Homo sapiens: one gene and its partners. The protein of the gene in region 5 purifies or fractionates together with the protein of the main gene of each other region. This does not show direct contact. Each region holds a gene or a part of one and is shown on either strand. Other genes may lie near its edges. The genes, in order: PIP4K2B, RGPD5, FBLN2, ACAD11, NEMP1, RANBP2 and DLGAP5.

Region 1 (4,211 bases), on a different chromosome or scaffold from region 5:
ACCCAGTTGCCACTAATGCATTCAGGATTTACAGAGGAAACCTTAGTCCTGACTTAATGGACTGGGGGGAGGGGGCACAGCCTTGTGTCTCCCACTTTCCTTGCAAATCCTGTTATCTCAATGAGGCCCCAGGTGGCAGTGAGGGGATAACCTAGAGTCATTAGAACTCCTCCAGGAGCATAAATGGGGGAAATGGCATTTAATTTGCTGCTCCTTTTATGTTACAAACCTTTTTTATTTAGAAATGTCAGAGAATGGAGGAAGTTCAAGTTAATGCAGTAACTGGGCTGGGGAACCATATCTTCCTAGAGTTGGGAAAAAACCCAATTTACTCATGGAGAAATGAAGGAAGCCATAGGAATGCACGTGCTTTGAGAGGGATGCTGGGGGCAGGGTAGTTTATAAGTTGGCAGTGGAGCAGACACTAGGTAAACTGCTGGCAAAAACTGGCATAGACACAAGAGTGTATCCTGTATAATTCCATTTATATGAAATTCTACAGCAGGCATCTATAATGAGAGAAATGAGATGAGTTGCCTGGCCAGGGGGCGGGGGGTGCTGAGTGTAAAGGGACATGAGAAGTGTGATTCTACGGTGACAGAAATGTTTTATATGTTGCTTGGGGTGATGGTTACATGAGCAAATACATTTGCTGAAATTCATCAAATTGTATACTTAAAATACGCACACTTAATATACATAAATTATTCCTCAATAAAGTTGATTTTTAAATTCCCAGCATCAAGCTCTGTGATACCCTTCATTGGCTAAACCCTCCCAATAGCCAAAAAAAACCCCAGAAGAGTCATGCCAGTTCCTATTCCAGGGGGTGCTCACAAGAGAATGTGACTGTCAAATCTGTGCCTACAGAGGAAACCATTCCACTTCTTTGTTTTTCTGCCAACAGAAACAATTCGTGGTGGCTGTCCCATTTCCTTTTTCCTGGCATATCAAGCCTGGCTCCGAGACTTAAAGGGAAAACAGAGACAAAGAGTTCAGGGCTCGGCTGGGCGCAGTGGCTCACGCCTATAATCCCAACACTTTGGGAGGCCTAAGGGGACGGATCACGAGGTCAGAAGATCGAGTCTTGCTCTGTTGCCCAGGCTGGAGTGCAGTGGCAGAATCTCCGCTCACTGCAACCTCTGCCTCCTGGGTTCAAGCGATTCTCCTGCCTCAGTCTCCTGAGTAGCTGGGATTACAGGCGCATGTCACCATGCCCTGCTAATTTTTGTATTTTTAGTAAAGATGGGGTTTCACCATGTTGGTCAGGCTGGTCTCGAATTCCTGACCTCGTGATCTGCCTGCCTCAGCCTCCCAAAATGCTGGGATTACAGATGTGAGCTACTGCACCTGGCCCAGCCTAGGAAATTTTTAACTCAGCTAACATTGGTGAACAATCCATATCTCAACTAGGGGAGACTTACCCCTCATTTCTACTAGGCCACATGTAGATGATTCACTGTAGGGATTAGCCCTATTATTATTATTTTTTTAGTTGTGTGAAATTTTATATCCCAGAGAGTTCTATTCCATTTCAATTGAACTGTTCCTATTGAAATATCTGCTACGTGCTTCATTCTGTTAGGTAGGTGTGTGGGAGGAGGAGAACACAAGGGGAGAAAGTGTTGTACATGCAAAAGAAACAGGAGGCTTATAATCTCATCAGGGAGATGAAAAAAAACCCTGACACCCTCAAAGTCAAAGCAGTATGCAATTAAGTGAGAATCCAGGGATACAGACATCAAGAACAGCAGAGGCTCAGAGAAGGATGAGGCTAGCATGGCCAGAGGGTCAGGCTCCCAGTCCTCATACATCAGGCCAGAAACAAGGCACCTAATGCCTCTCCTGGTATTGCACCAAGAGCACTTGACATTAGGAGAATCTACAAGATCATGCTACACTCCTGCTTAGAAATCTTCCATGGCTGCTCCTCTCAACCTCAGGGTAAAGTTTTAACTGCTTAGCCTGGCATTCAAGGCCTTTCCTAATCTGGCTCAGACTGCCAATTTTTTTTTTTTTTTTTTTTTTTTTTTGAGATAGAGCTTTGCTCTGGTTTCCCAGGCTGGAGTGCAATGGCGTGCTCACCGCAACTTCCGCCTCCCGGGTTCAAGCAATTCTCCTGCCTCAGCCTCCTGAGTAGCTCGGATTATAGGCATGCACCACCATGCCCGGCTAATTTTGTATTTTTAGTAGAGATGGGGTTTCTCCATGTTGGCCAGGCTGGTCTCGAACTCCCGACCTTAGGAGATCCACCTGCCTCGGCCTCCCAAAGTGCTAGGATTACAGGCGTGAGCCACCGCGCCCAGCCAGACTGCCAAATTTCTATTCAATTTACTTCTACTCAGTGTATTAAGGGCCTTACTATATGCTAGGAGCTGGGGATACAAAACCAAAAAGACATCTGCAGAGCTGGGCGTAGTGGCTCACGCCTGTAATTCCAGCACTTTGGGAGGCCGAGGCGGGCGGATCATGAGGTCAGGAGATCAAGACCATCCTGGCTAACACAGTGAAACCCCGTCTCTACTAAAAAAAAATACAAAAAAAAATTAACGGAGCATGATGGCGGGCACCTGTAGTCCCAGCTACTCGGGAGGCTGAGGCAGGAGAATGGCGTGAACCCACAAGGCGGAGCTTGCAGTGAGCCGAGTTCATGCCACTGTGCTCCAGCCTGGGTGACAGAACCAGACTCCGTCTCAAAAAAAAAAAAGCAATGAGTTCACTCTATGCTGATCTACTGGAGATGAAAATTCCTTGATTGATTGATTGAGACAGGGTCTCACTTCCATAGGCCAGGCTAGAGTGCAGTGGTATGATCTCAGCTCACTGCAGCCTCAACTTCCTGAGCTCAGGTGATTCTCCCATCTCAGCCTCCCTAGTAGATGGGACTACAGGTGTGCCATCATGCCCAGCTAATTTTATTTCTAGTAGAGACAAGTTTTCGCCATGTTGCCCAGGCTGGTTTCAAAGCCCTGGGCTCAAGCAATCCATCCACCTCAGTCTCTCAAAGTGAGAGGTATGATTCTGTTGTACATATACAACAGAATACTATTCAGCCTTTAAAAAAAAGAAGAAAATTCTGCAATATGCAACATGGAGATGAAAATTCAGCAGCTAGTTCTAGTCTGGTGAACTTGTGTGTCCAGAAGCCTCCACTTCCCTGTGCGACCTTCATAGGAATTGTTACCTAGGATGCCTGGACTAGGCATGCAGGTTTCCTGACATGTTCCAGTCCTCTGCTGTCGGTTCAGCAGTGGGCTGGCCACCACCAGCAATCACTTGTTACCTGCCACCATCAGAAAACATGACATGCTAGAAATACACTCACAGGACCGAGGAGGTCCAAAGCAAGAACTGCAACTCCAGAGAGGAAGAGAGGGCCACAGGAGCCAATAAATCTACCGGTGTTTACTCCTCCTTTCCATATCTTGCTTTCTCCTTCTCCTGCTGTTTGAGTCCCACTGCTCCCTGTGAGGTGGGAAGGCCTGCTAAAAGAAACTTCATTCAAAGGCCTGAGTAGGAATGTTCTCTAAAGATTTTTTTTTTTTTGAAACGGAGTCTCACTCTGTCGCCCAGGCTGGAGTGCAATGGCGCGATCTCTGCTCACTGCAACCTCCGCCTCCCGGATTCAAGCCATTCTCCTGCCTCAGCCTCTTGGGTAGATGGGATTACAGGCGCATGCCACCACACCCGGCAAATTTTTGTATTTTTAGTAGAGACAGGGTTTCGCCATGTTGGCCAGGCTGGTGTCAAACTCCTGACCTCAAGTGATCCGCCTGCCTCGGCCTCCCAAAGTGCTGGGATCACAGGCGTAAGCCACTGCTCCCAGCCATCTCTGAAGATTTTTTCTTTTTTTTTTTTTTTTGAGACGGAGTTTTGCTCGTCACCCAGGCTGGAGTGCAATGCCGCCATCTTGGCTCAATGCAACCGCCGTCTCCCAGGTTCAAGTGATTCTCCTGCCTCAGCCTCCCGAGTAGCTGGGATTACAGGCATGCGCCACCATGCCCGACTAATTTTTGTATTTTTAGTAGAGACGGGGTTTCACCATGTTGGCCAGGCTGGTCTTGAACTCCTGACCTCAGGTGATCCGCCCACCTTGGCCTCCCTAACTGCTGGGATTACAGGCGTGAGCCACCATGCCAGGCCCCTCTGAAGATTTTTAAAGCAGTAGGGCAAGATAAAAAGACAGGTAAAGGAGGTCAGTGGCTCACGCC
Region 2 (3,162 bases), on a different chromosome or scaffold from region 5:
GATCTCTTGACCTCATGATCTACCCGCTTTGGCCTCCCAAGGTGCTGGGATTACAGGCATGAGCCACTGTGCTGGGCCAAATTTGGTTCTTAGAAACCAAGGAGTGATGTGTGCACCAGGCCCAGGGCTGAAGAGCTGCTTCTCACTAGATGCCTCTCTTGGTCTGGCTGCTGTGTCCAGTCCTATCCAGGGTTAGCTCTGTTCCTCCTCCTTGTGGCATCTGTGTTTCTCTTTCTGCTCTGCCTCTCCCCATCTCCTAGTCCAAACATCCAAAGAAATAAATTACCTCCAGGAGATCGAGACCATCCAGGCTAACACGGTGAAACCCTGTCTCTAGTAAAAATACAAAAAATTAGCCGGGCATGGTGGCCGGCGCCTGTAGTCCCAGCTACTTAGGAGGCTGAGGCAGGAGAATGGCGTGAACCTGGGAGGCAGAGCTTGCAGTGAGCCGAGATCGCGCCATTGCACTCACGCCTGGGCGACAGAGCAAGACTCTGTCTCAAAAAAAAAAAAAAAAATTAATGACCTCTGCCCCTAACTGAACAAAGCCCTTCATCTAAGGCCACCCTTTGGTTGGCAGCCTTAGCCAGACATCTGCTTCTGGTCAAATCAATGTCTTGTCCACAGGGAGGCCCAGCGCTGTTTCTGGTTTTAGCTGGATGCAGGGTGTCAGACATGGCAGGTACTACGGTCTACCTGGCGGGTATCAAAGAGTTGGTCGACGTTCTCACAACAACCTAATAGGGACCAACCATGGAAGGCCAGTAGTAAAGGAGTTTGAAGTTCCCTTTCAGAAACCAATTAACAACCCCAAAGAGACAGTGGGTAACATAAAAGAGCAGCCATAAAAATATACAGTTTTAATAGAAATATTAAAATAATCATTACACTTCCTCTCATTGCAGAAACCATGAAAGAATATGCCTTTTGTAATCAAAGTAATTTTTTATCATGCAAAAAAGTATTTTGTTATGACATTCGTAAGTGGAGACTGTATTTCAAAACAAGTTTATACAGACTTCAAAAGGTCTAAAGTCAAAGTGAAATATATTTAAATATGATTAGTTACATCTAATGCAGCTGGCATACTCATATTCACAGTTTATAAAGTAAAAAAACTAAACTCTTCATGTCGGCTCTGAAATAGATGCATTTTCATTCATACATTCGCTAGTTAGGTCTGTTCTTCTAAGGAGGAAAGACGAGATATATGAGATATTTTTTAAAGAACAAACTCAACATATCAGCAGCAAATTTCAGTTAAACTAAATTGGAAACCAATGTTCTGTGTAACCAAAGTGCAAAGTCAGTTCCCCAGCTCAGAAAGAAAATTAAGAGTATAAACTGAAGGCTTAAGAGAACTTCAGAGAGCACACTGTGTGATTAATACATAAATATTAAAAATTATCCAATTTTTGATTTAAGAACAACACAGTTTGGATCTAGTCATTAAAACATATGCACAGGTGTCAAAGGCAAGTAACACTACCACCTAAGGTTATTCGGAGGAACTGTGAAGATGTAGCACGGACCTCTAAGGTGTCTAAAATCCCTTCTGATGGAAAGGTTATGGAACACTATCTGCCAAAAACACTGAAAGCACCACTTTTATATTTAGATCCAATGCTGAGTGATATAGTCACTGTTGGGATAGGTTTTTATTTGGGAAAATGGAGAGGATTCTCAAAACAGATTCATGGCTTGCATGCAGTGACACCCTATCAAGAGCCTGGAAAGACACCATGAAATCACCTCAACTCAAGTGGTGGGCCCACCTACTCATAGTCAGTGTTACACTAGCCAGCTCTAGGGCTCTGACAACATAATGAGTTTTGAGGTAGTATACTTTAAAGAAAAAAAGAAGAGTTTATTTTAAAGCAAATAACTAAACTGTATTTTAACTTAGCACAATTAACTGCAGCATATTTACTTCATAGCCCCTTAACATGTCACTTTTACCAACAAAGCTTTTTCCTTCATATTCTAATCACAAAAATTTCTCAACAATTTATAACAATCTGTAAATCTGACCTTGCAATAAATAGTCATAAAACGTTATTTTTATTACTATTATTATTTTTAGAGACAAGGTCTCGCTCTGTTCCCCGAGCTGGAGTGCAGTGGTACAATCACAGCTCACTAGCCTCAAGCGATTCTCCAGCCTCAGCCTCCCAAAGTAGTGGGATTTCAGGCATGAATCACCACACCTGGCCTTGAAACATTATTTTTAAAGCCTAAATTCCAGTTGGTATGGTACCAAAATTTAGTTTAACTTCAAAATTCACAGTACTGCCGAGAAATGGGCGGGTCCTGAGGTTCCAGAGAAGTGGGGAGTGAATTCATTCCTGGTGGTTTTATTCTGGCAGCATGCATGGGAGATCACATGAGTTAGAGGGCTGTGGCCTGGTATCAACACTTCAAGCTGTTGTACTTTTACTTCAAGTTGAAACTTTTAAAATACATCTGTCATACAGATGTACAAATATATGTAAATGCAAACATATATACACACTTTTTGACAAAAGAATAATGGTAACACACACGAACCATTTTTGTAAACAGATTCTATTTGGTTAATAGAAGTATTCCTTCCATCAACCTATCGAAGTCCAAACCAACTACGAAGATAGGATGCTCATCCAGAAGAACGGGAAGCATTTTCTTCCTCATCTTTAGAAAGTAAAACAAAGAAAAAAAAAAGAAAAAAGAGAGTATTAAAATTTCTCAATGTAAAATCTATATTTTAGAACCACTCTACAATATAAGCAAATAATGTCTTTTTTACTGATCACATGCCTTTTTTGGTGGGGGGGGGGGGTTCTTTTTTTTTTTTTTTTTTTGAGATAGGGTCTTGCTCTGTCACCCAGGCTCGAGTGCAGTGGCGTGATGAGACTTCAATGCAGCCTTGATCTCCCAGGCTCAAGTGATTCTCCCACCTCAGCCTCCCAAGCAACTGGGACCACAAGGTGTGTACCACCATGCCTGGGTAATTTTTTGTTTTTTTGTAGAGATGCAGGTCTCACTGTTTTCCAGGCTGGTCTCAAATTCCTGGGCTCAAGTGATCCTCCCACTTCAGCCTCACAGTGTTGGGATTGCAGTCACGAGCCACTGTACCCAACCATATGTCATTCTTTAGACACACTGCTTACTAAATTTCTCTTT
Region 3 (4,211 bases), on a different chromosome or scaffold from region 5:
GACCCTCTGTCATGGGTAGAGCAGAGTGGGGGTTGCAGGGAGGTCTCAGGTCTTCAGCCAGGCCTCAGGCACTTCCAGGCACCTGCCCTTCTCACACAGGGCACTGACATTTAATCCCCCACCCCATTTCACAGGAGAGGAAAATGAGGTTTGGAGTGTGCATATACCTTGGGAAAGATCAATCTCAGCTACTGGGGGCAGAGGGGGTAGAAGGAAAGGAGGCAAGGAAGAAGAGAGGGGGGAAAGGAAAAAGAGTGTCTGGATTAAAAACCAATCAATTCTGGGACCAGTGACTGGGAGGAAATCCCTCAGGATCACCATGGGCCCAGCACTGGGGAGATAGCTGGGTTTTGGTGAGAGCCTCTGTGGCCTGAGCCTGTCCCTGCGCTCGAATATGGGACAAGGTGCTGGGGCCAGGTCCCTGCAGATGGAGCCCCAGGAAGAAAGCTTCTATTTTTCCTGCCTCACAAATCCCCCATCACTGGAAGCTTCAGGCTTCTGTGGGTTCCAACTTGTGGGGTAACAGGAAGTGAAGGACCCCACAGTGTGCACCCCAGGAATGCCACACCCCCTGGCAAGATCAGCCCTTCCCATAGCCCCTGCCCTGGCCATCAGGGCCCTTACCTGGGCGGCAAGTGCGGCCATCGTCCTGCAGTGAGAAGCCAGGAAAGCAGGCACAGTGGTAAGAACCCACAGTATTGATGCAAAGGTGCTGGCACAGCTCTCCCGGGAGGAGAAGGCACTCATCCTGGTCATCGCCCGGCAGGCTGTTCGGCAGCTCGGCCTCTGTGCCCAGTGACAGGGCCTCTCGGCCCGCCATCTCTGCCTCTGAAACTAGGACAGGGGTTAGAGCTCAAGACAGAGCCAGCTTGGTCAGAGTAGGTGGCTGAGACAACCAGCTTTGGGAAACTAGTGCAGGTCCTCATCAAGACCTCTGTGTGCCCAGCAGACAGCAAGGATGGATGAAGCAGGATGGATGGATGGGTGGGTGGGTGGATGGGTGGATAGATGGATGGATAGATGGGTGGGTGGGCAGGTAAATAGATAGACGGATGGGTATAGATGGATGGGTAGATGGATGGGTGGATGGATGGGTGAGTGAGTGGATGGGTGGGTGGATGGGTAGATGGATGGGTGGGTGGATGGGTAGGTGAATGAATGGGTGGGGGGGTGGGGGGGGTGGATGAATGGATGGATGGATGGATGGATGGATGGATGGATGGTTAGATGGATGGGTGGGTGGATGGGTGGGTAGATGGGTGGGTGAATGAATGGGTGGGTGGATGGGTGGATGGATGGATGGATGGATGGATGGATGGATGGATGGATGGGTGGATGGGTTGTAACTGGATGGGTGGATGAATGAAGGAGGATGGATGGGTAGATGGAAGGATGGGTGGATAGATGGATACATGGGTAGACGGATGAATGAGTATTTGGCTGAATGGATGGATGGGTGGGTGGATGGATAGATGGATGGGTAGATGAATGGATGAGTAGATGGATAGATGGATGGGTGAGTGGGTGGATGGGTGGATGAGTGAATGGAAGGATGGGTAGGTGGATGGATACGTGAATGGATGGATGAATGGGTGTGGGGCTGAATGGATGGATGAATGGGTAGATGAAAGAGTGGATGAGTGGATGGGTAGATGGATGGGTGGACAGACAGATGAACAGACGGATGGATGGACTGGTAGGTAGGTAGATGGATGGATGGATGGATGGATAGATGGATGGATGGATGGATGGATGGATGGATGGATTGATGAATGGATGGGCAAATGAATGAACAGACCTCAAGCAGTAAGAATGAACCCATCAGAGCCAGGTCCAAGTCTTCATCACTGAGTCCTCTACAATAGGACAGGGTCAGATCCACAAAGAAGCTCTCACTAAAGTGTTACAATGGATTCAGACCCCTGACCTCAGTGACATCAAGGAGGATCATCCTTAGCAGCAGAAAGGGCTCCAAATCTGGGCTCTATTGGATCAGATGTGACCACTGACCTGGGCCTTCCCTAGCTGGGTCAACTTGGGCAGCACTAGGCCTCTCTGTGCCTCCAGATTCTGGAATAAACCCATCTCCCAGGGTTGTGCTGGGGAGCAGGTGAGAGTGGAAAAGAAGGCTCCTGAGGCTGAGCTGCCTTGGGAAGCTCTTTGTATGACAACTGTGGGGAAAGCATGCAGCCAGGACTTCAGGGGGAGGCCTACAGCCCCTCTAAGCTCTGTGCCAGCCCAGGGCCTCCTTCCCACCCCACCCAGGCAGCAGAGCCCACAGAGAGAGTAGCTGCATGAAGTCACGTATGAGGAACGTGTTTCATATGGAGGGTGTTTACATTAAGCTGCAGCCCAATCAGTCCCAGCCGGTGCCTCCAGGCAGGGCCATGATGGCTGGCGGTCTGGTCCCGCAGAGACTCAGCACTGCAGGCAGGCGGCGGACAGACCTGGACCCAGGGCTCCTCCTAGCACACCACAGGCTAGACAGTACCTCCAGGATTCAGGCTCAGCTCACCCTCACCAGCATCTTCCTCACAGGAGGAAGCATGGATCTCTGGCCAGGATCGTGCCTGGCTCTGTTGCCCACCTACTCCCTTCCACCCACCTGCCTTTGACTTTTGAAGCCGGACTTCCTCCCAAACTCTACCTTCAGCCAGACTCTTCTGGGTACTAACCTGGCCTTCACACCAGTACTCAACCATTCCCCTTAGAGCCAATCTCAGCAAGTAGCACTTCCTTGGACTGGACTTACTCTCTGTACCCACATTGGATTGGCAAGGGTGGTTGGTACATCTGTTCTGGTTGATCTGCCCAGGTCTGGCCTGGTCCAACCCCCACACACTCACCCCTGCCTCTGCCTCACCCTGATGGGAGATCCAGGTATCTGTTCTCCCACCTGTACCACACAGGATATGAGCTCTTCCTGTAGGATCTCCTGAGCCCTGGCACCTGTGGACAGCAGGCATCTTAACCCCTATGCACAGACTTCTGCCATCTTGCATTATAGTGACAGAGATCTGGGTCAATCGGAACCAAGGCTGACTGGGTCTAGATAAAACTCAGGGCATCAGGAAGGCTGGGGCAGAAGTGGGAGTCATTAGAGCCAAGGTGTCCAGTCCTGGCTGTGCCAAAGACCCGGCATGTGCCTGGGGCAAGATCCTGCCCTTCTCTGGGCCTCATCTTCCCCCTCTGAGCTGCTGAAGCACGGCAACGGTAACAGCAACAGTGGTGGCAATGCTGAATGCATCACTAGGCACTGCCAAAAGCCCTTGACAGGCATCCTATCATTCATCCTTGCACTGAACAAGGTAAAGAATACAAGACCATTTGACAGATGCCACAGTGAAGGCTCTGAGAAGGAGCCTTCCTTCTGTGTGACCTGCCCCAGGTAAGCAAAGGAACTAGGATTCCAACCAAGTCTGCCTGACTCCAGAGGCCAAGAGTTTAATCTTGATACCAGGACCTCATCTGTGGCTTTAATTCCCACTCCATGAAGTGCCCAGGACAAATCCACAGGGGCCCCAGATGACGGTCCATAGGAACAGCGAAAAAACTGGGCTGGTGGTTCTGGAACCTACCTGGACATCTGGTCCCCAACCAGTTGAGGCTGAACATGTGGACACCAACAAAGCAGGCCTGCCAGGACTCTCACGGCACCAGCCCCAGGGCCACCAAGGCCCATGTACAAAAAGGACATCTGCTGACTCACTGGGGCACCCTCATCAGGCTCCTGCAGACCCACCAGGCACAGAGGAGGCTAATGGTCATGGGTCCAGGAGACAGCCCTGGCTAGGGGACAGGGACTGGACATGGCAGCTGGAACAGTGGCTACAGCACAAGAAGGGAAGAAGAAGGGGGTGACACCAAGGACAACGAGGATGGATGCATGGATGGATGGATGGATGGATGGATGGATGGATGGATGGATGGATGGATAAGCAGATGGATGAACAGACGGATGGGTGGGTGGATGGATGGATGGATGGATGGATGGATGGATGGATGGATAGATGAATAGATGATCAGACAGATGGATAGATGGACAGATGGACAGATGAATGAATGAATGGATGGGTAGGTAGATGGATAAATGGATGGATGGATGAGGGATGGATGGATGGATGGATAAACAAACGGATGGATGAGTGGATAGTGGATAGGTAGATAGATACATGGATGAATGAATGGATGGATAGATGGATGGGTGGGTG
Region 4 (4,211 bases), on a different chromosome or scaffold from region 5:
CTGAGGCTTTCTATTTTTTCAATTGCTTCAGCTGTGTTTGTAACTGCTCACTGAAGCATTTTTATCATGGCTGCTTTAAAATTTTGTCAGAAATTCTAACATCTCTGTTATCTGGGTGTGTTAGTCCATTTTATAGTGCTATTAAGGAATACCTGAGACTGGGTGATTTATAAAGAAAAGAGGTTTTGTTTGGCCCATGGTTCTGCAGGCTGTACAAGCCTAATGCCAATGTCTATTTCTGGGGAGACCTCAGGAAGCTTACAATCATAGTGGAAGGTAAAGGGGGAGCCAGCACATCACGTGGCAACAGAGGGAACGAGAGATAAGGGGGGACATCCCAGACTCTTTTAAACAATCAGATCTCATGTGAACTCATTACTGAAGAGAAGGCATAAAACCATTTATGAGGGATATTCCCCCATGACCCTCCCACTAGGTTCCACCTTCATGTTTCAATATGCGATTTGGAGGAGACAAGCATCCAAACTATATCACGGTGTCTCTTTATTTTTTAAAAATTAATTTTGAATTGTTCCAGGTTTTTGGTATTATGGGTGATTTATAAAATTGAAACCTGAACAGTTTTATACTGTGAGACTCTGGACCTTTTTAAACCTTCTTGGCTTTCTTTGACACCATTCTGTCAGAGAAAGGAGTGGCATCACCTCATTACTGCTAGGCAGAGAGAGAAGTCCAGGTTCCCCTCCCAGCTTCCATCAGTACCTGAAGAGGATGATGCCCTCATACTGCCAGGTGGGATGAAAGTCCAGGCATCCCATTTGGACTGCACTAACAACCCATAAGATGGGTTGGGGGGACTTATTACTGGCCAGTGGGGAGGAAAGCCTCAGGTTTTTACTTGGCACTGTCTGATACCTTCCTGGCAGGGGAGCTGGGGCACCTCATTACAGTGCTTGCCAGGGTGGAAGCCTACGCTCCCCATCCTGCCTTTGCTGGTGTGAGGAGTGGTGGGGGCCAATGTTTTTTCTGTGGTGTTTGGCTGGAGTAAAGTGGTTATTCTCTAAAAGATTTTTGGCTTGCTAGGCTGCATCTTTCCTGATCCTTTGGTTAGAGAGATTATACTTTTGTTGGGGTGCTTTATGTTTTTGTTTTGTTTTGGTCTGTGCTCACTGACATTTCCAGGTTACTAGATTCTTCAGCTGCCGGGAAGAACCTCAGCAGCTGAGATATATGAGGCAAAAAGAAAACCTAGGAAACACACCACTAGGTTATTCTTTTGGACCTGAAGTCCCTAAATAGTCTGCCTTTTCTCTACCTTTCAGAGTCTTCTTATGTTTGTTTTATAGATAATGCCCAGGGTTATTAGTTGTACTTAACAGAAGGAATAGAGAAAAATATATCGATTCCATCCTTGTTAGAAGCAGAGGATATCAGACATACTTATTTTCTTAGTCTGTGTAGGCTGTCTGTAAGCCACAATGCAGAGCTCTCTGGGAAAACATGGATTGGAGAATGGGGTCTGGAGCCAAGGCTGAAGTAGAGTCTCCTCCATTCCAGATCTAGGACTTGGGACCCACACGCTCTAGTATGTGTACAAAGCACATAAAGTTAACAATTTAGATGAAGTAGACCAATTCCTCAAATCCCATGAACTATCAAAACTCACCGAAGATGAAGTAGATAACCTGAATAGTTCTACAACTATTGTTAGAAGTTGAATTCAAAGTTAAAAAGCTGCTGAAAAAAGAAATCTTCAGGCCCAGATGGTATTACTGGTAAATTCTACTAAACAGTTAGAGAAGAAGTAACACCAATTTTACATATCTATTCCAGAAATAGAGAAGGAGGAAACACTTGTCAACTCATTTTATGAGGCCAGAATCATCCTAATCCAAAACCAGACAAGAACAAACCATAGACCAATATAGATGCAAAAACCACCAGCAAAGTATTACCGAATAGAATCTGGCAGTATGTAAAAATAATCATACAGCATAATCAAGTAGGGTTTATCCCACAAATGCAAGCCTGATTCATGTCTATAACTCGATAATTAAAAATAAATTATTATAATCTGCCAAACTAACAGCAAAAACTGCATGAACATTAAAAAAATCACATGATCATATCAATTGATGCTTTGGCATTTGACAAAATTCAGCATCTGTTTATGATAGAAACTTTCAGCAAACTGGGAATACAAAGGAATTTACTCAACTTTATAGAGAGTATTTTTAAAAATCTAACATCATACTTAATGATGAAAGACTAAATGCTTTTCCCCCAAAACTGGAAATGAGGCAAGAATGTTCACCCTCACTATTCCAATTTATGATCATAGAAGAATTCCTAGGCAGTGCAGTAAAACAAGAGAAAAAAAGTGCATGTAGTTGGGGGAAAAAAGAAGTAAAACTGGGCCTGCTTGTAGATGACAATGTGATTGTATAGAAAATCCTAAGGAACGTATCAAACAAAACGAAACAACCCTCCCAGAACTAATAAGTGAGTTTAGCAAAGTCACAGGATACAAGGTCAGTACGTAACAATTTTATTTTTATATACAAGCAATGAACAATGGGGGAACTGAAAGTTTTAAAATACCATTTACAACAGTTTTTTTTAAGTACTACTCTACCAAAACACGTACAATATCCACATGCACTAAAAAGTAGAAAAAAGTGATATAATAAATCAAAGGAGACCTAAGTAAATATGTAGATTAGAAGACTAACAGATTAAAGATGTTAACCATCCTCAAATTGATCTGCAGACTTAAGGCAGTTCCAATCACAGTCCCAAAAGGACAATTTTGTAGATAAAGACAGACTGATCCTAAAATTTATATGGAAATACAAAAACACTAAAGTAGCCAAAACAATTTGAAAAAGAAGAAAGCTCAGTGAATCACACTACCTAATCTTAAGACTTACTCTAAACTACAGTAATCAGTGAGCAAAAGGCATGTAGATCTTTGGAGCAGAAGAGAGAGTCCAGGAATAGATTCATAGAAATATAGGCCAATTAATTTTTTACATAGGTGCAAAGGCAGTTCAATGGAAAAGGTTACATCTTTACAGTAAATGGTGTTGCAGCAATTGGACATAGATAGGCAAAAGAGGGACCCTTGATCTAAACCACACACCTCACACAAAATTTTAACTCTAAATGGATCATAGATCTAAATGTAAAAGGTAAAGCTGTAAACTTTTAGAAGAAAACATAGTGGAAAAATCATTTTCTGGGATTAGGTAAAATGTTCCTAAACATGCACCAAAAGCAAGGCTCATAAAAGAAAGAATTGACAGATTTCTCATGTGGCAAATGACTAGCGTCCTGAATATATGAAGGACTCTCTAAATCAAATAGTAAGAAAACAACCCAATTAAAAAATGGACAAAAGACTTTAACAGACATATCACCAAAGAGGTATAGAGATGGCAAATCAGTACATTGAAGGGGATCAACAGCAGTAGCCATTACAGAAATGCAAATTAAAACCATGATATCTCTGCACACTTAAAATGACTAAAATAAAATATGATACTAAGTGCTGATGGTTTGAGGAGCAACTGGAACTCTCATACACTGCTAGTAGGAATGCAAAATGTACAACCACTCTAGAAAACTGTCAGCTTCTTAATAAACATTTACCACTGACCCAACAATTCTACTCCTGCTATCTGCTTTAAAAAATGAAAACATGTCCACACAAAAACCCGTATACAAATACACAGAAACTCTATGAATAATCTCGCGATGGCTCACGCCTGTAATCCCAGCACTTTGGGAGGCCGAGGCAGGCAGATCACAAGGTCAGGAGTTCAAGACCAGCCTGGCCAATATGGTGAAACCCTGTCTCTACTAAAAAATACAAAAATTAGCCAGGCATGGTGATGGGCGCCTGTAGTCCCAGCTACTCAGAGGCTGAGGCAGGAGAATCGCTTGAACCCAGAAGGTGGAGGTTGCAGTGATCTGAGATGGCGCCACTGCACTCCAGCCTGGGCGACAGAGCCAGTCTGTCTCAAAAAATAAATAAATAAAATTTAAAAACTGGCAACAACCGAAATGTCCTTCAACAGGCAAATGGATAAACCAACTGATACATACTTACAATGGAATACTACTCAGCAATAAAAAGGAATGAACAGTCAATACACAGAACAATTTGGATGAAACTCAAAGGCATTAAACTGAATGAAAGAAGTTGGTCTCAAAACAATACATGCTATATGATTCTATTTACATGACAT
Region 5 (4,036 bases):
GTGGCTCATGCCTGTAATCCCAGCACTTTGGGAGGCCAAGGCGGGCAGATCATTTGAGATCAGGAGTTCAAGACCAGCCTGGCCAACGTGGTGAAACCCCATCTCTACTAAAACTACAAAAATTATCAGGGTGTGGTGGCAGGTGCCTGTAATCCAGCTACTCGGGAGGCTGAGGCAGGAGAATCACTTGAACCCGGGAAGCAGAGATTGCAGTGAGCCGAGATCATGCCACTGCACTCCAGCCTGGGCAACAGGAAGAGACTGTCTCAAATAATAATAATAATAATTAATTAATGAGATGAAAAAACATAGGTACAGAGTTAATATGAATATTACAAAGGATTCCCAGAGCAAAGAAGGTAGCCAATACATAAAATGAAAGGTACCAGACTCCTATGGTAGAAGCTGGGCCTAGACATAATTTAAGTTTTTATTCAATACACATAAGGCTCACTACAGCCCTACTCTCTCTTCCACCCTATACAGAGCTCTTGGTAGGGATCCCATAGCTGGAGCCATAGGTCTTCTCCCCATCCCAATGGACAAACAAAAGAGATACTTTATGCCATAAAAAAAAAAAAAGAACTAAAATATAATCAGAGTAGTTCCTTGGGCCAAGAATAACCTGTATTTTGCTTTTCTATGAGACAGCATGGTAGTACAACCTGCTGCTCCTGCAAGAATACCCCTTAGAGATTTTGCATCCTGGGAAATCATCCAGTCCAAGGATGAAAGTAGACCAGTACAGACTCGGGACAGGAAGGGGTGGCTAAGAAAAAAAGGGAAATCAGTGGCATGCAAAACCATCTCATTAGAAAGATGAAACTGAGGAGTAAATTGCTGATTACCTGAAAACAAGAAATCCAAACAAGAAAATATTATGTTCATTAAGAAAGACCACAATATATCTATAAAACTTTTATTAAAATTGGAATTAGAAACTATACCAAAAACTTTAAAAATACATTAAGACATTGTTCTTTTTTCTTACAGAAAAGAGGGTGAAAATAAGACCCATGGCAAAGAGCCATCCCTGATAATTTTGTTCCTTTCAAACATTCATGAACATTTAAATAAAATTACAAATATTTAAATAACCCTAAGGTATTACCCACAGGCTAAAACTTGCCAGTAATTCCTTAGCCCTGCTATTTCAATATCAATTCCACAAACATGGAAAATTATGGTAACTGCAGGCTGTAACAGTTTCTAATATTCACATTATGAACTATTTGTTATGTTGTCATAAGAATGTGCTCATGCTATAGGCAAATTCAGAGGTGATTTCACCATTTTCAAATTATCATCAAGAGTGTGAAAGAGGAAGATGACACACACGTGGGATGGTGTGGAAATCCAAAGCCCCACATTTTGGGAGTCTGTGACCACTCCCATCTGCCACTAAAGCTACGAGTTGGTGTTGGCATGAATCTGCTTTGTTTATTCCCAGCAGGCTCTGGCTCGTGTCACATAAGGCACCAACATCCTTTTCAAGGTAGTAACCATCTAGAATCAACTCAATTGTAACCTGAATTCATAAGCTTAAGTCACCAAAAGACATCACTGGGTCATAATTATATAGGTTCCCCTAAAAAAATAAAAAAAAAATCAATTTCTGCTATGTAGAAAAAGAAACAAAAGGTTTAGGTGCCTTTGCCTTGTGCAATGGATATTTCATATGTTTATTAATTGGTTTCAGTTAATATGTAATATGAAGGCATGATAAATGTGTCAAACTGTTCTCTTGTTTCAGATACAATTCTTGGCATTTCAATATAGGTTATTATCTCATATGTCAGACTTGAGTCCAGAGAATACTAGAAGGACATTTAATTTCCTTTCCTCCTCCTTCCTTTCACTACTCAATTCAAAGAAAAGTTATGAGTACACAGCTAGGAACCATTTTTACGTAGGCATCCATCTGAGCCCATCTTGTTTTTTTTTTCTAAAACAACAAAAAGACTAAGGACAATTACATAATGCATTCCCAAGCCTTTTATGGATATCAGGGCCTGGGGGGACTATCTGGCCTATTTGGGTTCTTTCATTCACCAAAATTCTATTATACATGCCAAGGGTTAAAGGGAACACCATCAGTCAAGAGACGGCTGGGCCCTAGAATGGAATCTATTAGCATAAAATGGAACAGTGGGACCCAAAGAGCTATCAGCAAAATTCCCTTTGTAACAGACGTAAAAATCATGAATTTGAGGGGAAAAATAAACTAGTTTTGGTGGGATGCAGTGGCTAACAGGAATTACTTATTAGAAGGTAATGAAGTTGCTAAATTTTCCTTGTTTTTGATCCCTGTGTTCTGTTGGTCTCTTGAAGCAATCTGAGTGGGAAAGGAAAGTGAAAGAAATGTTTTATGCCAGCTGCCTCTTGTATTCCCATTAATGGGAGTCTCTACATTAATGCTCTACATAATTTGGTCAGACTGATGAGAGGCAATAGATTTCCAATGCTGATGAGATCCAGAGCCCTGGAGCCCATTTATGGCTTGACATTCACCCAGCAAGACGCTGACGTGGCAGCAAACACGGCTCCAATGTCCAGCTTACCTCATAGTTATCCCTTCAATCCTTCTTGATGAGATTGGTCTGAGAGATGAGACTGTACTGAAATCACAAGAGCTATAACTGCCAGAGAAAAATTAAATGGGGTCTTCAAGTAGTGACTGAGCCAGCAAACTAAGTGGCCAAGAGGGAGACAAGAGCAGCTCCTAAAGAAGGTTGAAGTCAAGCAATCTCCGGAACACAGAGGATCTGAAGCATCTGGGCAGAGCCACAGGCAGGCAGGGCAAGGACACACAGCACACCAGAGCAGCACCGTCCTTCACTGTGTGAGAGCAACTCTCAGGCTGCAGAACCAATTGCCATCTCCACTGCCTACAGCTCAGGTCTCCAACTACCAGATAGGGAGTAAAAAACAGTTTGATTTTATTCACCTCAAGTCTAAACACGGTGGAAAAAAAACTGGTCTAGAGATGGAAACTATATTTCATGGGGGTTTATTAAACAGAGAAAGAGGAGAATCTTTCACAATTTCACAGTGCTTTCTCATTGAAATAAAGACATGATCAGGAAAAGTCACCCTTATAGGCAAGCTATCACCTCCCTAAGTAGGGGAGGCACCAAAATCTCCAGAGAATCCTGAGACCACTTGCACGAGTTGAATTATTTTTTAAAATAAACTTATGCTTAAATATGCTAGGTCTCAATTTCTATAAATAAGGTAAAAAATAGTATATTTCAGAAGTTTTAATAGTTCTTTGTAGAGAGAGAACATTTTACCATGTACATAATTCACAAGGGTATAAAGGTTTCCCAATGTAAAGTTCCTTTTACCCTTCAACTGTAACCCATAGCATCTGCCCAAATACTGCTCATTTTTCACTTTCTACTATATGTCTCTTTCCTGCCAACTGAGGTAGTTGTCACTTAGGACAGTTTAAGGCTCTGGAAAACACTGGTGGAAATAATCAACTGCCCACCTGGAGGGCAGTCTCAGAGCTGACCCTTTGGAAGTCTGCAATGGAGCTAGGCCTTTCAAAATTACCACGCTAAATGGCTGGTCTAAAGGAGTCATTACGGCTTTTTAAAAAATCATCTGCCTTTTTCCATCATCTTGGTGAGCCAGTAAGTCTGGTGCTGTGCGCTTGCCATGACCATCTATCTTCCTGGCTAAGGTAATTACAGACTTTTCCAGGGTATAAGGGTGAAGACCACAAAGAAAAAGAACCAAGTAAATGACAGACACTTGAGAATTTGCTTCCTCACAGATGACATTGCTGGTTTATAAGGGGTACTTTGCAATGGCAAAAGAATCTGAAACTAATGCTACTGCAATAACAGGCAGCATACATCTCAGGTCAGAAACGCAATCATAAATAAGTGTAAGTTCATGGAAACTTGACAGCTGAATGAGCACCCAGAGGCATGAAGATAACCTGGAGCCTATTTCCTGGCAATGCAAATTGTGGCTGCTGCATAACTACAAATTGTGTATCAAGAAACTACATAGTTTCAAGGCTTAA
Region 6 (4,211 bases), on a different chromosome or scaffold from region 5:
AATATTGGACACTAAAGTGAAAAGTAGGCAGTACTCACATATCGGGAGGAAACCATGCCTAAATAAGCCTTATGCATTAACATTCACTTCTCACTACCACTTGTCATTTTTATTCACCAAGCTCTTGTGTATTGAATGCTTACTTTAGTTAATTTAGATTGTGCTTGTTAAAAATAGTATTTGAAACTGTAAATGCCTTGCAGTCAGTTTTGTTTGTATCCACAGGTTTTCATAGGGAATCTTTATACTTTTGTAAATTTCCAGATAATTTAGAGTTTCAATCTTATTTTCTCTAATGTCTCAAAGCTTGCCAAATTAATTATTCACTTACAGTAACATTACTGTAGGCCCAGTTATGACCTGTGAGACCCAGATATTGATATATTACAAATACTTTTACAAGTGGGTGATTCTAATGTGTTCCCAGGGTAGAGAACCACTATTTTGAAATAATTTTGAATTCTTCTGCCACATGTCCCTTGGGGTTATTTTTTAAATTTTTGCTTTTGGCAAAAAAGTTGCTGAACAATTTTGTTTTTGTTTTTGTTTTTGAGACAGGATGTCACTCTGTTGCCCAGGCTGGAGTGCAGTGGCATGAACACAGCTCACTGCTGCCTTGACCTCCTGGGCTCTAAAGCAATCCTTCCACCTCAGCTTCCCAAGTAGCTGGGACCACAGGTGTGTACCACCATGCCTAGCTAATTTTTACATTTTTTGTAGAGACAGGGGTCTCACTATGTTACCCAGGCTGGTCTCAAACTCCTGGGCTCAAGCAGTCCTGCCACCTTGGCCTTGCACAGTGCTGGGATTGTAGGCATGAGCCACTGCACCTGGCCCTGAACAGTTATTTTTGAGCCCCCAAGTTGGTATCTCATCCAGATCAGTGGTTACTGTTCTCAGGAAGTTCCCATGCAACCTGTGGCTTTTGTTCTCAGATCATTCCTTTGCAATATGTCCTTAAGAATTTTTGTCTTTCTGTCTCTTTTTTTTGAGACGATCATTCTGTTGCCCAGGCTGGAGTGCAGTGGCGCAGATCTCAGTTTACTGCAACCTCTGCTTGCTAGGTTCAAGTGATCTCCTGCCTCAGCCTCCTGAGTAGCTGGGATTACAGGCATGCACTGCAACACCCCGCTAATTCTTTTAGTATTTTTAGTAGAGATGGGGTTTCGCCATGTTGGCCAGGCTTGTCTCGAACTCCTGACCTCAAGTGACCAGCCCGCCTCGGCCTCCTAAAGTGCTGGGATTACAGGCATGAGCCACCACACCCGGCCCTCTCTCCTCTTTAAAAACATTTTTTTTTCCCCTCCATTAAATCTGTCTGAAAGAGAGTTGATTTTTTATTGTGTTCTTTAAGGTACTGAGTTATGTATCCTGTGACATTTTTTCTTTTTCATGAGAGTTTTTAGCAGAAGGTGTAGGGTTCTTTAAGACAGTGATTCAGCAAGTGATAAAAAGTTGAGAGGTGTTTCTTTCCTCTAAGATAGTGGGGACTTGGTCATCTAAATTGAGGTATGGGATGGAGAAGTTTCTAGTTTTCACCTTCTTGCAGGTATGCGAGAGTGAGACCATCATTGTTCCCCCATACAGAAGTAGGATGCTTAACAATCTAATACCCTTTGGGCAGTTGAAGTCAGTGAGATTCTCCCAAGGCTGCTTTCCACCAGCCCAACCAAGAAATCTACATTCCAGCATTAGCTTCTTCAGGAAGAAGTAGAGATGCAGAAATTATAAACATGTTTAGGCCATTGTGGCTAATTTGGAAGTAGCAGGTTTGGCCTGCTGAGCTAAGTTTACAAAATTTCAAGGTGGGTACTTGAAATTTTAGAAGTAGGTAAAAAGAACCTACTTCTTTACTTGGAAGTCCTTGTGTAGTTTAGTATTAGGAAGTTTATCCAAGGCAGTGACAGTCTTATCTTTGTATCGCTAAGCATAACAATAATAAATGTACTCTGTACTCAACAGTATGAGTTGAATTTACTAGCTTTTTTTTTTTTCCTTTTTTTCCTTTTTTTTTTTGGTGACAGAGTCTTGCTCTGTCACCCAGGCTGGAGTACAATGGCACGATCTCTGCTCATTGCAACCTCCGCCTCCCAAGTTCAAGCGATTCTCCTGCCTTAGCTTCCTGAGTAGCTGGGATTACAGGCACCCGCCACCACGCCCGGCTAATTTTTTTTTTTTTTTTTTTTTTAAAGACAGAGTCTTGCTCTGTCGTCCAGGCTGGAGTGCAGTGGGGCGGTATCTGATCACTGCAACCTCTGCCTCTCAAGTTAAAGTGATTCTCCTGCCCCAGCCTCCTGAGTAGCTGGGATCAGTCACCCATGACCACACACTGCTAACTTTTTTTTTTTTTTTTAAAGACAGAATCTTGCTCTGTTGCCCAGGCTGGAGTGCAGTGGGGCAATCTCAGCTCACTGCAACTTCTGCCCCCCAGGTTGAAGCGATTCTTCTGCCTCAGCCTCTCAAGTAGCTGGGACCACAGGCGCATACCACCACTCCCGGCTTTTCTTTTCTTTCTTTCTTTCTTTTTTTTTTTGAGACGGAGTTTCACTCTTGTTGCCCAGGCTGGAGTGCAATGGTGCCATCTTGGCTCACCGCAACCTCCGCCTCCTGGGTTCAAGCGATTCTCCTGCCCCAGCCTCCCGAGTAGCTGGGATTACAGGCATATGCCACCATGCCTGGTTAATTTTGTATTTTTAGTAGAGACGGGGTTTCTCCATGTTGGTCAGGCTGGTCTTGAACTCCTGACCTCAGGAGATGCGCTCACCTCGGCCTCACAAAGTGCTGGGATTACAGGCGTGAGCCACTGCGCCCAGCCTAATTTTTGTATTATTAGTAGAGATGGGGTTTCACCATGTTGGCCAGGCTGGTCTCGAACCCCTGACCTCAGGTGACCTCGGCCTCCCAAAGTGCTGGGATTACAGGCGTGAGGAATTTACTAGAATAATATAATTTTAAACATTTAAAATTGATGTACATATTACATCATCAGGAATTAGAGGGATTGATAAAATAAGAGGGGGATGAAAAATGTAAAAAATAGATACTAGTGTTTAAATATCCTGATTTATTCATCAGATAAAAATTTCCAATGGGCAAATACTGGAGCAGCTGTGTTTGGAACACAGTCAGTCGGAACCCAGTCAGCCGGTAAAGTTGGTGAAGATGAAGATGGTAGTGATGAAGAAGTAGTTCATAATGAAGATATCCATTTTGAACCAATAGTGTCACTACCAGAGGTAAATGTTAAGGAATTAACCTTTTACTAATAACTTATTTTTCATTTTTAAGTTTTACCCTGGCTTGATCTGTCAGGGTATAATTGTTTGCATTTAAGAATGTTTACTGTTTGAAATGGAAGCTCTATTTATTAGATGTCTAGCCTTTAAGTATAAATTATCTTTTTACAGTTTTTACATAAATATTGGTTTGTAAATTCTATATGTAATTATTGGTAAGAAATAATTTTTTCTTATGTTTCTAGAATATCATGTTTGTTTTTATAACATGATTCTGGGGAAAAATTAACCTCATACTCACTAAAGTCCTTTCAATAAATGTTAACCTTGTATGTTTTTTGGACAAGAACATTGTTCTAGGAAAATTACTTTGTCATTTTTTAACCTCAGTCAGTAGCTAATATTTCTCTTCAGTAGCAAACACTTTTGAAACCTCTCTGTCCTATAAAGAAAAGCATTTAATTTCCAAAGGGAAAATGAATATTATATAAAAGAAAATGTTTAATGATAAATCAGGTCTTTACTCCCTCAGCCAAATCAGATATATTCCTAGCCCTAAGATATATAACCAGTTATCACATTAACAAATTCTCTTTGTCATCACAAAGAAAATGCCTTAAAAGAATTTGGATCTTTGAAATTTGTCATGGAATTTATTATAAGCAGCAGCTTATAGAGAATTTCATCTCCTATTATAGGTAGAAGTAAAATCTGGAGAAGAAGATGAAGAAATTTTGTTTAAAGAGAGAGCCAAACTTTATAGATGGGATCGGGATGTCAGTCAGTGGAAGGAGCGCGGTGTTGGAGATATAAAGATTCTTTGGCATACAATGAAGAATTATTACCGGATCCTAATGAGAAGAGACCAGGTTTTTAAAGTGTGTGCAAACCACGTTATTACTAAAACAATGGAATTAAAGCCCTTAAATGTTTCAAATAATGCTTTAGTTTGGACTGCCTCAGATTATGCTGGTG
Region 7 (4,211 bases), on a different chromosome or scaffold from region 5:
TTGAGCCGAGATCACGCCGCTGCATTCCAGCCAAGGCGACAGTGCGAGACTCTGCCTCAAATAAATAAATAAATAAAAGTGTTGATAGTAGAGATACAGGTAACTCTCTTGAAGAATTTTGCCTTAAATGGGACTAGAAAAATAAGTGCTAGATGAGGATGTAGGTTGGGAGAAATTACCGCATGCTTGTAACTTCATAATGGCAACAATTCAGTAGAGGAAAAAATAGATGAGTAAGAGGATAAGTTGCTGGAAGAATGTCCTTGAGTAGGTGAGAAGAAATAGAGTACATCTATTATAATAAATAGCACCTATAATTGTATTAGTTATCCCAAAACTTAGCAGCTTAAAACAATAAATATTGATTATTTCATACAATTTTTGTGGGTCAGGAACTTGGGTATGGCTGAGCTGGGTGATTCTGAAGATAGCAGCCAAGATGTCATCCAGAGATATATCTGAAGCCTTAACTGAGACTGGAGGATCTGCCTCCAAGATGACTGACTCACATGAACAGCAAGTTGATGCTGGCTTTTGGAAGGAGGCTGTAGTTCTTTGTCATGTGGACATCTCCATAGGACTGCTTGAGTCTTCTTAAGGCCCCACATGGCACCTGGCTTCTCCCAGAGCAAGCGACGCTTCAAGAGAGAGCAAGGCAAACACTACCCTAGTTTTAGAAGTCATATTCCATTATTCCTGTAATACTCTCTTGGTCACACAAGTCAGCCCTATTCAGTGTGAGGGGATGACACAGGGCAAGACTACCAGGAAGTGAGGATCAGTAGAGGGCAGCTTGGATGCTGGCTATCATACAAGTTAATTAATTTAAAAGTGAAGTAATAAATGCCTATTACATAGCAAGCAGTTAATATTTGAACACATGAAGGCAAAATGAATACAAATTTTAAAAGACTAGGGGTTGAAATAACTTGTGGTTAGAGTGCTAAAGAATTAACAAGAAATATTAAAAGCATTTCCCTTTGTGCGGAGAGGTCTTGCTTTGTTACTCAAGCTGAACTTGAACTCCTGGGCTCAAATGATCCTTCCACCTCAGCCTTCCCAGTAGATGGGACTACAGGTGTGTTACTGTGCCTGGCTTATTGAAAGCCTTTTTTTTTTTCTTGAGACGGAGTCTTGCTCTGTTGCTTAGGCTGGAGTGCAGGGGCGCAATCTTGGCTCACTGCAACCTCCATCTCCTGGGTTCAAGCAATTCTCCTACCTCAACCTCCCGAATAGCTGGGATTACAGGTGACCGCCACCACACCCAGCTAATTTTTGAATTTTTAGTAGAGATGGGATTTCACCACGTTGGCCAGGCTGGTCTCAAACTCCTGACCTCAGATGATCCGCCCTCCTCAGCCTCCCAAAGTGCTGGGATTACAGGCGTGAGCCACCGTGCCTGGCCTGAAAGCATTTTTTAGCAGCAGTTGAAATGACACAAAAATAATTGTTTATACATTTGCATAACTTTTCATCTGAAATGTTTTATATACTGTGTGGTTTTGGTTTTTTTTCTGCCTAGGGGCAATGAAAACTATTCTAGGTGATCAACGAAAACAGATGCTCCAAAAATACAAAGAAGAAAAGCAACTTCAAAAATTGAAAGAGCAGAGAGAGAAAGCTAAACGAGGAATATTTAAAGTGGGTCGTTATAGACCTGATATGCCTTGTTTTCTTTTATCAAACCAGAATGCTGTGAAAGCTGAGCCAAAAAAGGTAAATTTAGTGTCTTAATATAAAGGAATAGTTTCTTTTATTTGGTATTTTCTTCAAGACATTAAGTGACTAACCCCTTTCCCTTAGTCTCATTATTAACTGGTTGGTAGAAGGTGGGAATGACATAATAGTAGCTCAGAAGAATGAAAATCAGGTCTCTTAAGATAGCTGTAGGTAAGTTGAGATAGGATAAAACTAGGAAAATTGGTAGAATCAGGCTGAACAATGTTATGCAAAGGATTTGGTGTTTATCCTGTAGGTTTTGCAGAATCAGGAGAAGTTTATAAATAAGGGTAGTGCCGTTGTCAAATTAATAATTCAGGAAAATACCATAGCCCTAAAGATTTTAGTCTGGAAAGGGAAGCATTTATAGATAGGGAGACCAATTGTGAGACTATTGTAATAGAATAGATGGAAAGGGGCAGTGGGTTTTAAAAGGAAAAAATAGGTGTAAGACATCTAAATAAAGGCATTTGACAGGACTGGTGGCCAAGTAGATGGTGAGGGGTAAAGGAAATTGAAAAAGCAGAGAGAAGCTCTGCTGCTAAAAGAGATAAGGAAGATAAGGAACAAGCTTAAGTGGGTGCATGTTAATAACCTTTTTAAAAATCTTAAACTTGTGTGGGCCACCTAGATATTAGTAAAAATTTGGAAAGAAGGATGGAAATTGGTGCTAAGATGTCGATTTAGGATATAATATTGGGAATATGGATGAGTGTTTAAGCTGTAGGACTAAATGAGACCATTCCAATAAGGATATATAAAATTATGAAAAAGTGGGCTCTAGAGAGCACTTTTAGGTAGGCAGAAGCCAGGTACCAGGCTGAGGACTGGTCAGAGAGGCAGGAGAACTAAGAGAGGATAGAAGCTCATATTAATGATGATTCCAATACCTGGAAAATACGGTTTGAAATTTCTTTCTCACTGAGAAATGTGAGTAATTTTTGAAGTTACTAACTTAATTTAAATCAAGCTAGAACCAGAAAAAGGAATTTAAGTATCTTTTTGCTATAAGAGATTAAGGATAAAATTTAACTTTAAAATGGGAACTTTATTTTGTAATAAGATATGGAAGTAAACCTTTACCAGTTCATATTTTAAGTTCATCTTCTTTTGACTGTTCTAAGGCTATTCCATCTTCTGTACGGATTACAAGGTCAAAGGCCAAAGACCAAATGGAGCAGACTAAGGTATAGTTGATAGTAGATAATTGTTACTAAAATGATAAATTGCACTTTTTTAGTAAGTAAATTCATTTTAAATCTAGTATCAGATTCAAACATAATGATTAATTTACTAGAGTTAACAGGTACCAAAGTCACTGTTTTTAGTATGGTGATGTAGAGCAATTTCACTTAAAATATTTGCTCCAACATTCCGTATGAGATCCATGGCAAACTGTCTTTGTGTCACACTCTTGTTTTGTTTAGTGGGCTCCTATTATGCATTCCAAGTTACCTGCATGAAATGCATATGGGGAGGAAAGCACACAGGGTAGGTGTTATAAACTTACGGGTCTTCAAAATACTGTAATAGAGATATCAGGAGGGTTACTAAAACAAAGTGAAGTGGGCAAGAAGGGAAATAATATGCCTCTTTATCAGGTGAGGAAGCTAAGTTCCACGTATGCATATATATTTTGCATTGCTATGATGTTCCTGGTGTTGTAGGCTTTTGGATATAATAAACTAAATTCTCTTTGTGGAACTTACATGTAAGGCATTTAAAAAAATACATAATATGCCAGAAGATGATAAGTATTATGGAAGAGATTTTAAAAAGGGGAGATGGGGTGTACTAGAAATAGGTATGGGGTAGAATTTTGATTGGGCAGTTAAGGAAGGCCTCCCTGAGATGAAAGCCTTTTGAGTGAAGTCATTATGGAAGTGGAGAAGAGAACCATGGGAAAGCGCTTTTTATCCAGGAGAAGTATTTTCTAGGCAAAATTAAAAGGTCTTGAAGTGAAAGTATGTCTAGGAGTGTTTAAGGACCTTCAGAAGGCAAGTTATAGTGAGCTGTTTTTAATAGCTTGGGTTATTAGCATTTTCCAAATTCTGTGATTGTGAAAAAGGATGTAAGCTTTTTTGGAAGCTTAATGGAAAGCTTTTCTTTATCTCATTTTATTTGGGGTAGTTTTTTGTTGTTGTTGTTGGGTCATTTACGATGATCAGATTTCATATGAGGAATCAATTTACAGATTAAAAATATGATGGTCTGATTCATTATGCAATTAAATCACATAGCACCTAATCTCTTAAATAGATTGATAACGAGAGTGATGTTCGAGCAATCCGACCTGGTCCAAGACAAACTTCTGAAAAGAAAGTGTCAGACAAAGAGAAAAAAGGTAGGAATATTAGCAATTACTATAAATCCTCTGAGGCTACCACAGCCATAATTTTTTTTAAGTGTCTTGAAGGTCAACTGGAATTTGTTCGTTTGTTTGTGACAGAGTCTTGCTCTGTTGCCCAGGTTGGAGTGCAGTGGCACAATCA

The links.
Region 1: the proteins of NEMP1 (region 5) and PIP4K2B purify together in Homo sapiens (affinity purification with mass spectrometry; one large-scale study listed by BioGRID and IntAct). This does not show direct contact.
Region 2: the proteins of NEMP1 (region 5) and RGPD5 purify together in Homo sapiens (affinity purification with mass spectrometry, with the first as the bait; 2 studies listed by BioGRID). This does not show direct contact.
Region 3: the proteins of NEMP1 (region 5) and FBLN2 purify together in Homo sapiens (co-immunoprecipitation; one large-scale study listed by IntAct). This does not show direct contact.
Region 4: the proteins of NEMP1 (region 5) and ACAD11 purify together in Homo sapiens (co-immunoprecipitation; 3 studies listed by BioGRID and IntAct, with this or other methods). This does not show direct contact.
Region 6: the proteins of NEMP1 (region 5) and RANBP2 purify together in Homo sapiens (co-immunoprecipitation; 3 studies listed by BioGRID and IntAct, with this or other methods). This does not show direct contact.
Region 7: the proteins of NEMP1 (region 5) and DLGAP5 purify together in Homo sapiens (affinity purification with mass spectrometry; 2 studies listed by BioGRID and IntAct, with this or other methods). This does not show direct contact.

Annotation. Positions count from the first base shown.
Region 1 is NC_000017.11:38,789,401-38,793,611, forward strand, and holds part of PIP4K2B (phosphatidylinositol 5-phosphate 4-kinase type-2 beta), read right to left. Parts: intron 3,486-4,211; exon of another isoform or gene 3,326-3,485; intron 969-3,325; exon of another isoform or gene 838-968; intron 1-837. UniProt on the Homo sapiens protein: Participates in the biosynthesis of phosphatidylinositol 4,5-bisphosphate. Preferentially utilizes GTP, rather than ATP, for PI(5)P phosphorylation and its activity reflects changes in direct proportion to the physiological GTP concentration.
Region 2 is NC_000002.12:109,855,370-109,858,531, reverse strand, and holds the end of RGPD5 (RANBP2-like and GRIP domain-containing protein 5/6), read right to left. Parts: exon of another isoform or gene 2,843-3,162; intron 2,671-2,842; coding exon 2,636-2,670; 3' UTR 827-2,635; downstream 1-826.
Region 3 is NC_000003.12:13,614,699-13,618,909, reverse strand, and holds part of FBLN2 (fibulin-2 isoform a precursor), read right to left. Parts: intron 835-4,211; coding exon 625-834; intron 530-624; exon of another isoform or gene 362-529; intron 7-361; coding exon 1-6. UniProt on the Homo sapiens protein: Its binding to fibronectin and some other ligands is calcium dependent. May act as an adapter that mediates the interaction between FBN1 and ELN.
Region 4 is NC_000003.12:132,561,898-132,566,108, reverse strand, and holds part of ACAD11 (acyl-CoA dehydrogenase family member 11), read left to right. Parts: intron 1-4,211. UniProt on the Homo sapiens protein: Acyl-CoA dehydrogenase, that exhibits maximal activity towards saturated C22-CoA.
Region 5 is NC_000012.12:57,054,738-57,058,773, forward strand, and holds the end of NEMP1 (nuclear envelope integral membrane protein 1 isoform a precursor), read right to left. Parts: 3' UTR 906-4,036; downstream 1-905. UniProt on the Homo sapiens protein: Together with EMD, contributes to nuclear envelope stiffness in germ cells. Required for female fertility. Essential for normal erythropoiesis. Required for efficient nuclear envelope opening and enucleation during the late stages of erythroblast maturation.
Region 6 is NC_000002.12:108,778,194-108,782,404, forward strand, and holds part of RANBP2 (E3 SUMO-protein ligase RanBP2), read left to right. Parts: intron 1-3,075; coding exon 3,076-3,236; intron 3,237-3,934; coding exon 3,935-4,208; intron 4,209-4,211. UniProt on the Homo sapiens protein: E3 SUMO-protein ligase which facilitates SUMO1 and SUMO2 conjugation by UBE2I. Involved in transport factor (Ran-GTP, karyopherin)-mediated protein import via the F-G repeat-containing domain which acts as a docking site for substrates.
Region 7 is NC_000014.9:55,181,065-55,185,275, reverse strand, and holds part of DLGAP5 (disks large-associated protein 5), read left to right. Parts: intron 1-1,522; coding exon 1,523-1,716; intron 1,717-2,843; coding exon 2,844-2,906; intron 2,907-3,978; coding exon 3,979-4,063; intron 4,064-4,211. UniProt on the Homo sapiens protein: Potential cell cycle regulator that may play a role in carcinogenesis of cancer cells. Mitotic phosphoprotein regulated by the ubiquitin-proteasome pathway.